2 separate regions of the Homo sapiens genome follow, and region 1 is linked to region 2. The links come from fine-mapping of genetic effects on gene expression. A gene starts in region 2. The other region holds a variant in brackets. All regions are shown on one strand. Distances are between the middles of the regions. Region 1 overlaps STX2 (syntaxin 2). Region 2 holds the start of STX2 (syntaxin 2).

Region 1 (4,393 bases), 27 kb before region 2:
GATTATCTAGCCCAGTGGGATATACCTATAGACAAAAAGAATGACACAAAAAATAAAAAATAAACCTTTAAGTAATCATACTCTTGACAGTAGATGCTGGCATAATTATTTTGAGTCTGTTGTGTGTGTACTATGAATAGCAAGTGAATAATTATGTGTCAGTGAGAACCAGAATTTGGGGCATAGTTGAAAGGAAATAAAGATGTAATATTGCCCTTATTAAGTAAAAATCCTTTCAAAAAAATTTTTAGTCCTTCCTTTATTCTTAATTTAATTTGGATTCTCAGTAACAAATCATGATTCATTTTATCTTTTAAAAAAATCTTAGCCCAGTCCACTGAAAAAGCCTAGGAAAGAATGGTCAGGTCATCGTCATGTATAGCAATACATTCCCCAGCATGCTGACCTCGGTGTCTAGATCACATTCTTCAGACACAGGAGCAGGGCTTCCTGGGGAAATGGCTGATGCCAGGCCCAGGGAGGAAAGGGGTGAAATGAGCATGGGGACTTTTGTCACAGCAAAAAGTGGAAAGGCTGTCACAGACAATGAGGGGCCTACCAAAAGGACTCAAGAGTCCACCCTACTAGCCAAAGAGACCATCTGAGCATTAAGGATAATGCAGCAATGAAAACATCAGATGTGTTTAAATCCATGTGTTCACGATGATGGACGACAAGCAGCAACAGAGACTCTCCCTGGTCATCTCTGGAGGACCCCAGGGAACTGACCTATGAAAATTATACCAGAGAGAGAGAGAGTCCAACGCTGATCCTCTCTGTCCTCCATGATCTGTGACCCAGAATGTGCTTTGGCTCCCTTGGTTGGAGAAGCCAGGTCATTCGTCCTACAGAACCTGCCACACTGCACATTTTGCTGATTTCACCCTGCAACACATTCAGTAAGCTCTGCTGTCCTCTGTATTTACTGTGGGCTCATAGTTAAATTCTCCAAACTACCCAATTCAAGAGTTGAAGGGGAAAGGTTTCTTTTTAACTATTCCAGCAACTAAACAAAGAAGGAAGAATAAAATCAGGATATTCATGCTTGTAATCCCAGCACTTTGGGAGGCTGAGACTGGCGGATCATTTGAGGTCAGGAGTTTGAGACCAGCCTGGCCAACATGGCGAAACCCCATCTCTACTAAAAATACAAAAATTAGCCAGGCGTGGTGGCGGGCGCCTGTAGTCCCAGCTACTCAGGAGGCTGAGGCAGGAGAGTCGCTTGAGTCCAGGAGGTGGAGGTTGCAGTGAGCCGAGATTGTGCCACTGCACTTCAACCTGGGTGACAGAGTGAGACTCTGTCTCAAAAAAAAAAAAAAAAAATCAGGATATTACTGCTTGCAACTTCTAATGAATTATGGATCTTGGAAATAATCATCCATTTTTGACAATATCACAGAATAGAAAAGAATGTTATATCTTATTTAAAATTTTACTGAACTTACTTAGAGCCAAGAAAAAATGTTAATGTCACCATTAACATCTTTTTTTTTTTTTTTTTTTTTGAGATGGAATCTTGCTCTGTCGCCCAGGCTGGAGTGCAGTGGCGTGATCTCGGCTCACTGCAAGCTCTGCCTCCTGGGTTCACGCCATTCTCCTGCCTCAGCCTCCTGAGTAGCTGGGACTACAGGCACCCGCCACTGCGCCCAGCTAATTTTTTGTATTTTTAGTAGAGACGGGGTTTCACCGTGTTAGCCAGGATAAGTCTCGATCTCCTGACCTTGTGATCCACCCGCCTCGGCCTCCCAAAGTGCTGGGATTATAGGCGTGAGCCACCGTGCCAGGCCACCATTAACATCTTAACGTAACCATGAGGACATAAAATCTGTAATCAGATGCTGCATCTTTACATTTTAAAAACCCACAAAAAACACCTGAATCAGATAAAGCTTGGAGAATTTAACTACCAACCTACAGCAAATTCAGAGGACGGCAGAGCCTATTAAATGTGCTGCAGAGGTAAAATCAGCAAAATCTGCAGCATGGCAGATTCTGTAGGACAAATGACCTGGTTTCACCAACCAAAGGAAAAA[G/A]TGCAGAGAGAAAAATCATGAAGGGAGAATCTCATTTTTAAAAGCCAGGGTTTGGTCCTTATTTGGGACTCAATTCAAGCAAACTGTTTAAAAAAAAAAAATCGTAAGACCACTGGGGAAATTCTGCCTGGATATTCTGTACTATTAAGTAATTATAATGAATTTGGGTTTAGATATAATTGTGGTTGTGCTTTTGGGGAAGCTTCTGTTTTTGAAATACACACTGATGAAATCTCAGATGCCTGGGATGGGCTTCAGAATAGTCTGGGAGCGGGTGCGGGTGGGAGCTCATGGAGAACTGTGGAGCTGGGGGGTCGGCTTGTGGTCGCCTCTCTCTGCTTCTGCACACATCTGAAACCTGCCGTAATAAAAGTATTTTATCATCTGCACAGAGATTGTTTTTGATCTTGATGCCATTCTGCAAAAATCAAATACAACATGTTTTCTACCAAATCGAGAAAAAGCAACCTCTGTTTAAGTCCCCTGTTTTACATGACAAAGCTATAAGCCTCCCAAAAAACTACTGCTGCTAAAGTGGAATGCCAAACATCATCGAATAAATTCTACAGAAAGTTTGAAAGAAATGAGCAATTAAAGGGTCCATTCAAGAAGAGCCTGGCAACTCACCTTCCCAAACATCTGCAACTTAGCCTGAAATGTCATCAAAAATGTAACAGTATAACAGTTTATAAGCAAACACATAACCTTTTTGAATATTAATTAGTACTCTGAATTACATACAAATAATTTATTTTAAAGCAGTCACTATTTTAATTTTTAAAAATGTAAAAGAACAAAAACCAATAAAGAAAAAAATAACAAATACCCATACTCCCAACATCAATAATTAAACATAAAACTTCAAACTTACCCTTTAACTTGGCTCGAATTTTATTCGCAGTTTTCTTGATTTCTTTGTTCAGATCTTCAAGCTCTTCTTTTATTTCTATAAAAATTTAAAATTAAAAAATAAAATACAGCATCTGAGCTATAATATCCAACATAAATGATATCCAATAAATTTAAGTGAAACAGTATCCTTAGTAAATATTCACTTTTTTTCTGTAAGAAAAACTACCGCTTATACCAGTGGTTCTCAAGGTGGGTCCCTAGACAGCAGCTTTCATAAATATCAGGTGGCAGCTTAGTAGAAACACAAATCCCTGGGGCCCACCCTGGACCTACTCAGAAACTGAGGTGGGGACAGTGGCCCAGCAATCTGAGTTAGCAAACCCTCCAGGTGACACAAGTTTGAGACTTGCTGCTCTATACCCATGAATGAAACTGCTGCCTAAATCCACTGCTAACACCTAGACCTGGGAAAGGAAAACGGAGACGTAACGATGATCTCAACAAAGTCTCCCGTGTGTGTGCTTTTCTCTTGTGCTGTCAGCTGTCTCCCCAAAACGCCCGAATAATCACAGCCACCACTTCAGGGCTGCTGGGCCGGTCGCCCTGGCCTGGCTTCTCAGACACTCAGGGCTGCAAGCAGGGGGCGATGGAGGCAGGGGCCGGCCTCCTAACACGGAGGGAGGCCAGCAGAGCAGGAGCTGACACTCCAGGGCAGTGCTGAGACCTAAGGCCACCCAGGGCGTCATAGCAGCCTCTGCTTTCATGCCTAGCTGCCCCAGAGCCCAGGGAGGGTGGCAGGATGTCTGCTCCATGCCGCACACTCACATTTGCCAGTCCAGTGGCTGAAGTGACCAGAAGGGAAGGGGGTTTCTCTCTCCTTTGGGCAGAAGTTGCTGAAACAGGAAGGCCCCCGCCCCGTCTCTGGAGTCCTGTTGTCGTTTTAGAGAGTCCTGCACTTGCCTCTCTCACTCAATCTCACACGCATCAGCCGGGGAAAAGGCAAACGTTTCTGCCGTAGACAACTTGGCCAAGAATGAAAGCTTTCAGAGATGCCCACTCTCTTCCTGACACCCCCTCAGCTGAGCATACGCAGGGTGCCCCGAGTACCCACTGCACACAAGCGTGTGCTAAGTCTTCTTTCCATGCTCAGCTACAGTCATCAGACGCAGCCTGGCTCGTCCAGGGTTTCAGAGCCAGATCAGAGACTGAGTGATCTCCAGAGGTGACAGGTCACGCACCAGTGACACCTACTGAGTACTTTCTGTGTGCAGGCCCGTGTCATCTAAGGAGGCTAACAAGACCGCCAGGGACCTAACAACTCGGTAAAAACAGACAAGACAAACCCAGGAAGCGCCAATGCCACGCAGAGACTAACAACGGACGAGACAGGGTTCACAAAATGCCATGGGCAGCGAGGAGGAGAAGCGTCTGCTGCAGCTGTCCCACAGGAGGGGACATCTGACCTGGGAGTGGAGAGACTGGTGGCTTCCATTCCAGGCAGAAGAAGG
Region 2 (4,393 bases):
GCCATGTTGGCCAGGCTAGTCTCCAACTCCTGACCTCAAGTGGTCCACCCAACTCGGCCTCCCAAAGTGCTGGGATTACAGGCATGAGCCACTGCGACTGGCCTCCTGCTAATTTTTTAATTTTTTTCGAGAAACAGTGTCTCCCTGTGTTGCCCAAGCTGGTCTCCAATACCTGGGCTCAAGTGATGCCCCCACCCTGATCTCCCAGACTGCTGGGATTACAGGAGTGAGCCACAGCTTTTCTTCATTAAATAAATACCTGAGCTCCTACTACACGGCACTGAAAGATAATCCATCGGGCAAGACAACACAACTATAATTTGCTGTGTTTAAGATGATATTGATCTGCGGAACACAGGGAATATTTGTCCATTAATAAAAAAGGAAAAATCACCGTGAAGAAACTTCCTTGGAATGAATATAAAGCATAATTTCCATGATCCTAAGGATGAAATCATTGCCTTTCTCAACCAGAGCTCCTCATCTGAACCACAGAACACAGATAATGATTTAAGTGGCTCTTTTCTCTATTCTCCCACTCGGGGGTACATAACAGCTCCATTCTAGCAGCAGAGGAGAGAGAATAATTCATTACATGCAGTGGGTGTCGTAGGGCTGTGGGCCTTAGCACCCCTGTTCTGAGGCTGCCAACAATTTAGAGACCAGAGGCTCTATCTGTGCACACACGTAGCATGAATTAGTACCTGTATTGTAAAGGGAAAAAGTCATAACTACTTCTGCTGGCCTAAGCCGTCCTGGGTTAGACAAGCTTGGAAAGTGCACGACCATCACTATCATTCCGCTGTCACTGCACCATGCACAGTCCTGTCACCTTTACACGTGTAGAATGCATCGAAATCCTTCCAAAATTTTTAGTGACCTGCTTTTCCCTTGCTAAAGTAAACAGTAACTTGCTGTGTGCCCGGCTGCTGGGCGCGTAAGGTGCGTTCAGAGTCAACACACGGTCCCAGTTTCCAAAGCAAACTACTGGGAGATCAGACACAAGCTGCTGTTCGCGCTCGCCCCACCCCAAGCACCCAGCACTCTAAGGTGCCCACATTTCACACCCATCTGTTGCCTCCCGCTTGGTGCACAGTCCTTTGTGAAGCCCCAGGGATAAAGCAGCGACCAAGAGGACCCGGCCTGCTCCCCGGGGCTGACGCCAGCTGCGGGGACCCCGTGGGGCGGACCACAGTTAGGCCAGTGGGCTCCGGCTGGGTAAGCGCCAGATACAATCCGCCAAGCGGAGTGACGGACAGGGAGCCACGCTCGAAGAGGGGGTCGAGGCCGGGACCTTCCCCGCTCCCTCCTCCTGCCCCAACCCGCCCTGAGGACTCCGCCCAGGAAGCCCTGGGGACCCCGCCCGGAGCCCCCACCCTAGGACTCCCGGGACCCCCGCCCTGGGGACCCCACCAGCAGTCCCCGCTCAGGACTCCCTGAGACCCTGCCCGCAGCCCCCGCCCCAGAACGCCGGAGATCCCCGCCCTGGGGACCCTCCCGGAGCCCCGCCCAAGACGCCCCGAGCCCCCGCCCGCCCTCCAGACGCCGCCCCGGCCGGGCCTGAACCGCTACCCGCGGCTGCCGCTCACCGCCGTCAGGTCTGGCAGCCGGTCCCGCATCCCCGCCGGCCGGGCAGCGCGCCCCGCCGCTCAAGCCTGTCCCGAGCTGCCTCCGGCCGGGCCTCGGGCTCTCCGGTCTCCGCCTCAGGCCCCGCGGTCCCGGCCCGGCGCCAGCAGCCCTCCCTGGAGCCGGCGCTGCCACGGCAACCGCGCCCCGCGCGCTCTGCGCATGCCCGGCCCGCGCCGCGCCCCGCACCCACCCACACGGCGGCAGCGCTTTCCAGCGGGAGCCCGGAGGGGCGGGGCCTGGGGGCGGGGCCTAGGCGGGGAGGGGCGGGGTCCGGCCGAGCCCCAGGCTGGCAGTTCCGCTACACGTGCTGTTTGTCCCTTGATCTGCTTTTATGCTTTCACACTCATTGTTTTATTTATCAAAATATAGAGCATTCAACGAATAGTGACAAAAGAGCAAAGCTCCCGGAATGTGCTGGGTGCAGCTTTGGGTAATACATATGCCGAACCTTCTCTTTAAGGGTCCACGCGCAGCCTCGGGTGTGAATGAAGGAGAAGAGATCGTGTACCACACATGATGCTTACGGAGCATAACACGGCAGGGGGCGGTAACGGGAAGAGCGTCCGCAGGCCCAGCCCTGGGATACCATTCTGGCAGGAGAAACAGGCAATACAGACACAGACAAATAAATGATAGATGAGAAAAGAAAGTAAGGGCATGGGCACGGAACTGGCAGAGAGGTCGTCATGAAGGTGCAGGAGCTTAGGTGAACTACCCAGGTTGGGGGAACAGTCCCCAAGACCATTATCACCTCTGACACCAACGGCAAATTCTGGCGGTTTCCAAAACCACCTTCAAGTTCCATAATTTGCTAGAAGGAATCACAGAATACACTAAAAACTACTGTACTCACAACTATGGTTTCTTAGCAGGAAAATGATACGGATTAACATCAGCCAAGGAAGAAGGGCAGAGGGGGAGTCTGGGGATTACGGCGTGCAGCTTCAAGGTCCTCCCGTGGTCCTCTCCCTGTGTAGTCAGGCCTCATTACTTGCCCTGCACTGATGTGTGGCCTTACACACGAAGTACTGCCAGCCAGGGAAGCTCACTTGAGCCACAGTGTGCAGAACGTTTACTGGGCTCCATTGCATGTGCATGATTGATTGATTGTTTGATTGCTTTCATGCTTGATCTCAGCCTCTTGGTTAAGTGATATCCATGTAACCCTAAGCCCCCACCATAAATCACACTGTTACTCTCTGGCTAGCCGAAGACTCCCAGGCAAACAAAGATTGCCTTCCAGGAGGAGAAGGCAAGGCCAGATTTGTTTTTAAACAAGGTTAAAGTCTTTACTGCCTCCTGGAGGAGGTGGCTTTGGTCTGACCAGAAGGCAGCGCTAAGAAATCTGCTTGAGAGCAACAGGCTACACATTAAAAAACAGGACGTTTTGGACTTGGTTCTAGGTGTGATGTGGTTCTGTTACCCGATGGAAGGTCTTGACAGCCAGTTGTCCAGGTGAGTGTGGTGGCGGGCACCTGTAATCCCAGCTACTCAGGAGGCTGATGCATGAGAATTGCTTGAACCCGGGAGGTGGAGCTTGCAGTGAGCCAAGATCGCACCACTGCACTCCAGCCTGGACAGTAAAGCGAGACTCCGTCTCCAAAAAAAAAAAAAAGATATGTTTTTTCTCTCCATATCCTGAACTTCCCCACCAGAATGCCTCCTGGACCCCGCAACAGGCAAGTGCTTTTCTTTCGGCCTTCTTGCCTCTGCCACCACCATTTTAATTCTCCCTCTCTGGTAAATACTGGGCCCTCCCTCGTTTCTCCCTCTCTCCCAGTGGATTTTTCAAAAACATATGATAATATTGGCAGCAGCTGGATGGTGTTGAATTGGCAACCAAAACTTTTTGTTTGTTTGTTTGTTTGTTTGAGACAGAGTCTTATTCTGTCTCCCAGACTGGAGTGCAGTGGCATGGTCATAGTCCACTGCCGCCTTGAACTCCTGGGCTCAAGTAATCCTCCCACCTCAGCCTCCAAAAGCACAGGGACCACAGACATGAGCCCACCATGCCCAACCTCAAAACTTTCCTTATCCTGCCAGAGAAAAAAAATGAAGTTGTGAATAATCGTTGTGGGAATTCAGGGACCCTGAATGGAGGGACCGGCTGAAGCCATGGAAGAAGAACATAAATTATGAAGATTTCATGGACATTTATTAGTTCCCCAAATTAATACTTTTATAATTTCTTATGCCTGTCTTTACTGTAATCTCTGAACATAAATTGTGAAGATTTCATGGACACTTATCACTTCCCCAGTCAATACCCTTGTGATTTCCTAGGCCTGTCTTTACTTTAATCTCTTAATCCCATCATCTTCGTAAGCTGAGGAGGATGTATGTCGCCTCAGGACCCTGTGATGATTTTGTTAACTGCACAAATTGTTTGTAGAGCATGTGTGTTTGAACAATATGAAATCTGGGCACCTAGAAAAAAGAACAGGATAACAGCAATGTTCAGGGAACAAGAGAGATAACCTTAAACTCTGACTGCCGGTGAGCCAGGCGGAACAGAGCCGTATTTCTCTTCTTTCAAAAGCAAATGGGAGAAATATTGCTGAATTCTTTTTCTCAGCAAGGAACATCCCTGAGAAAGAGAAAGCATCCCTGAGGGTAGGCCTCTGAAATGGCCGCTTTGGGGGTGGCTGGGCATGGTGGCATGTGCCTGTAGACTACTCAGGAGGCTGAGGCAGGAGGATTGCTTGAGCCCAGGAGGTTAAGGCTGAAGTGAGCTGTGACTGTGCCACTGCACTCCAGCCTGGGC

The links. PIP is the estimated chance that this variant, and not a neighbour inherited with it, causes the effect. A credible set is the group of variants that fine-mapping cannot tell apart.
Region 1: its variant is the best candidate, but not a certain one, in a credible set for the expression of STX2 in blood mononuclear cells (TOPMed, PIP 0.52).

Annotation. Positions count from the first base shown.
Region 1 is chr12:130,810,053-130,814,445 of GRCh38, forward strand. STX2 (syntaxin 2) reads right to left here. Exons shown (of 11, transcript NM_194356.4): 4 at 2,905-2,979. Among named protein-coding and RNA genes, the nearest start is that of STX2, 27 kb to the right of the region's middle. RefSeq lists a silencer at 1,631-1,814 and an enhancer at 3,817-4,056. The variant G/A (reference allele first, on the strand shown) is at 2,034.
Region 2 is chr12:130,837,481-130,841,873 of GRCh38, forward strand. It overlaps STX2 (syntaxin 2), which reads right to left and starts at 1,770. Exons shown (of 11, transcript NM_194356.4): 1 at 1,590-1,770. The coding sequence starts at 1,619. RefSeq lists silencers at 1,334-1,393, 1,464-1,973.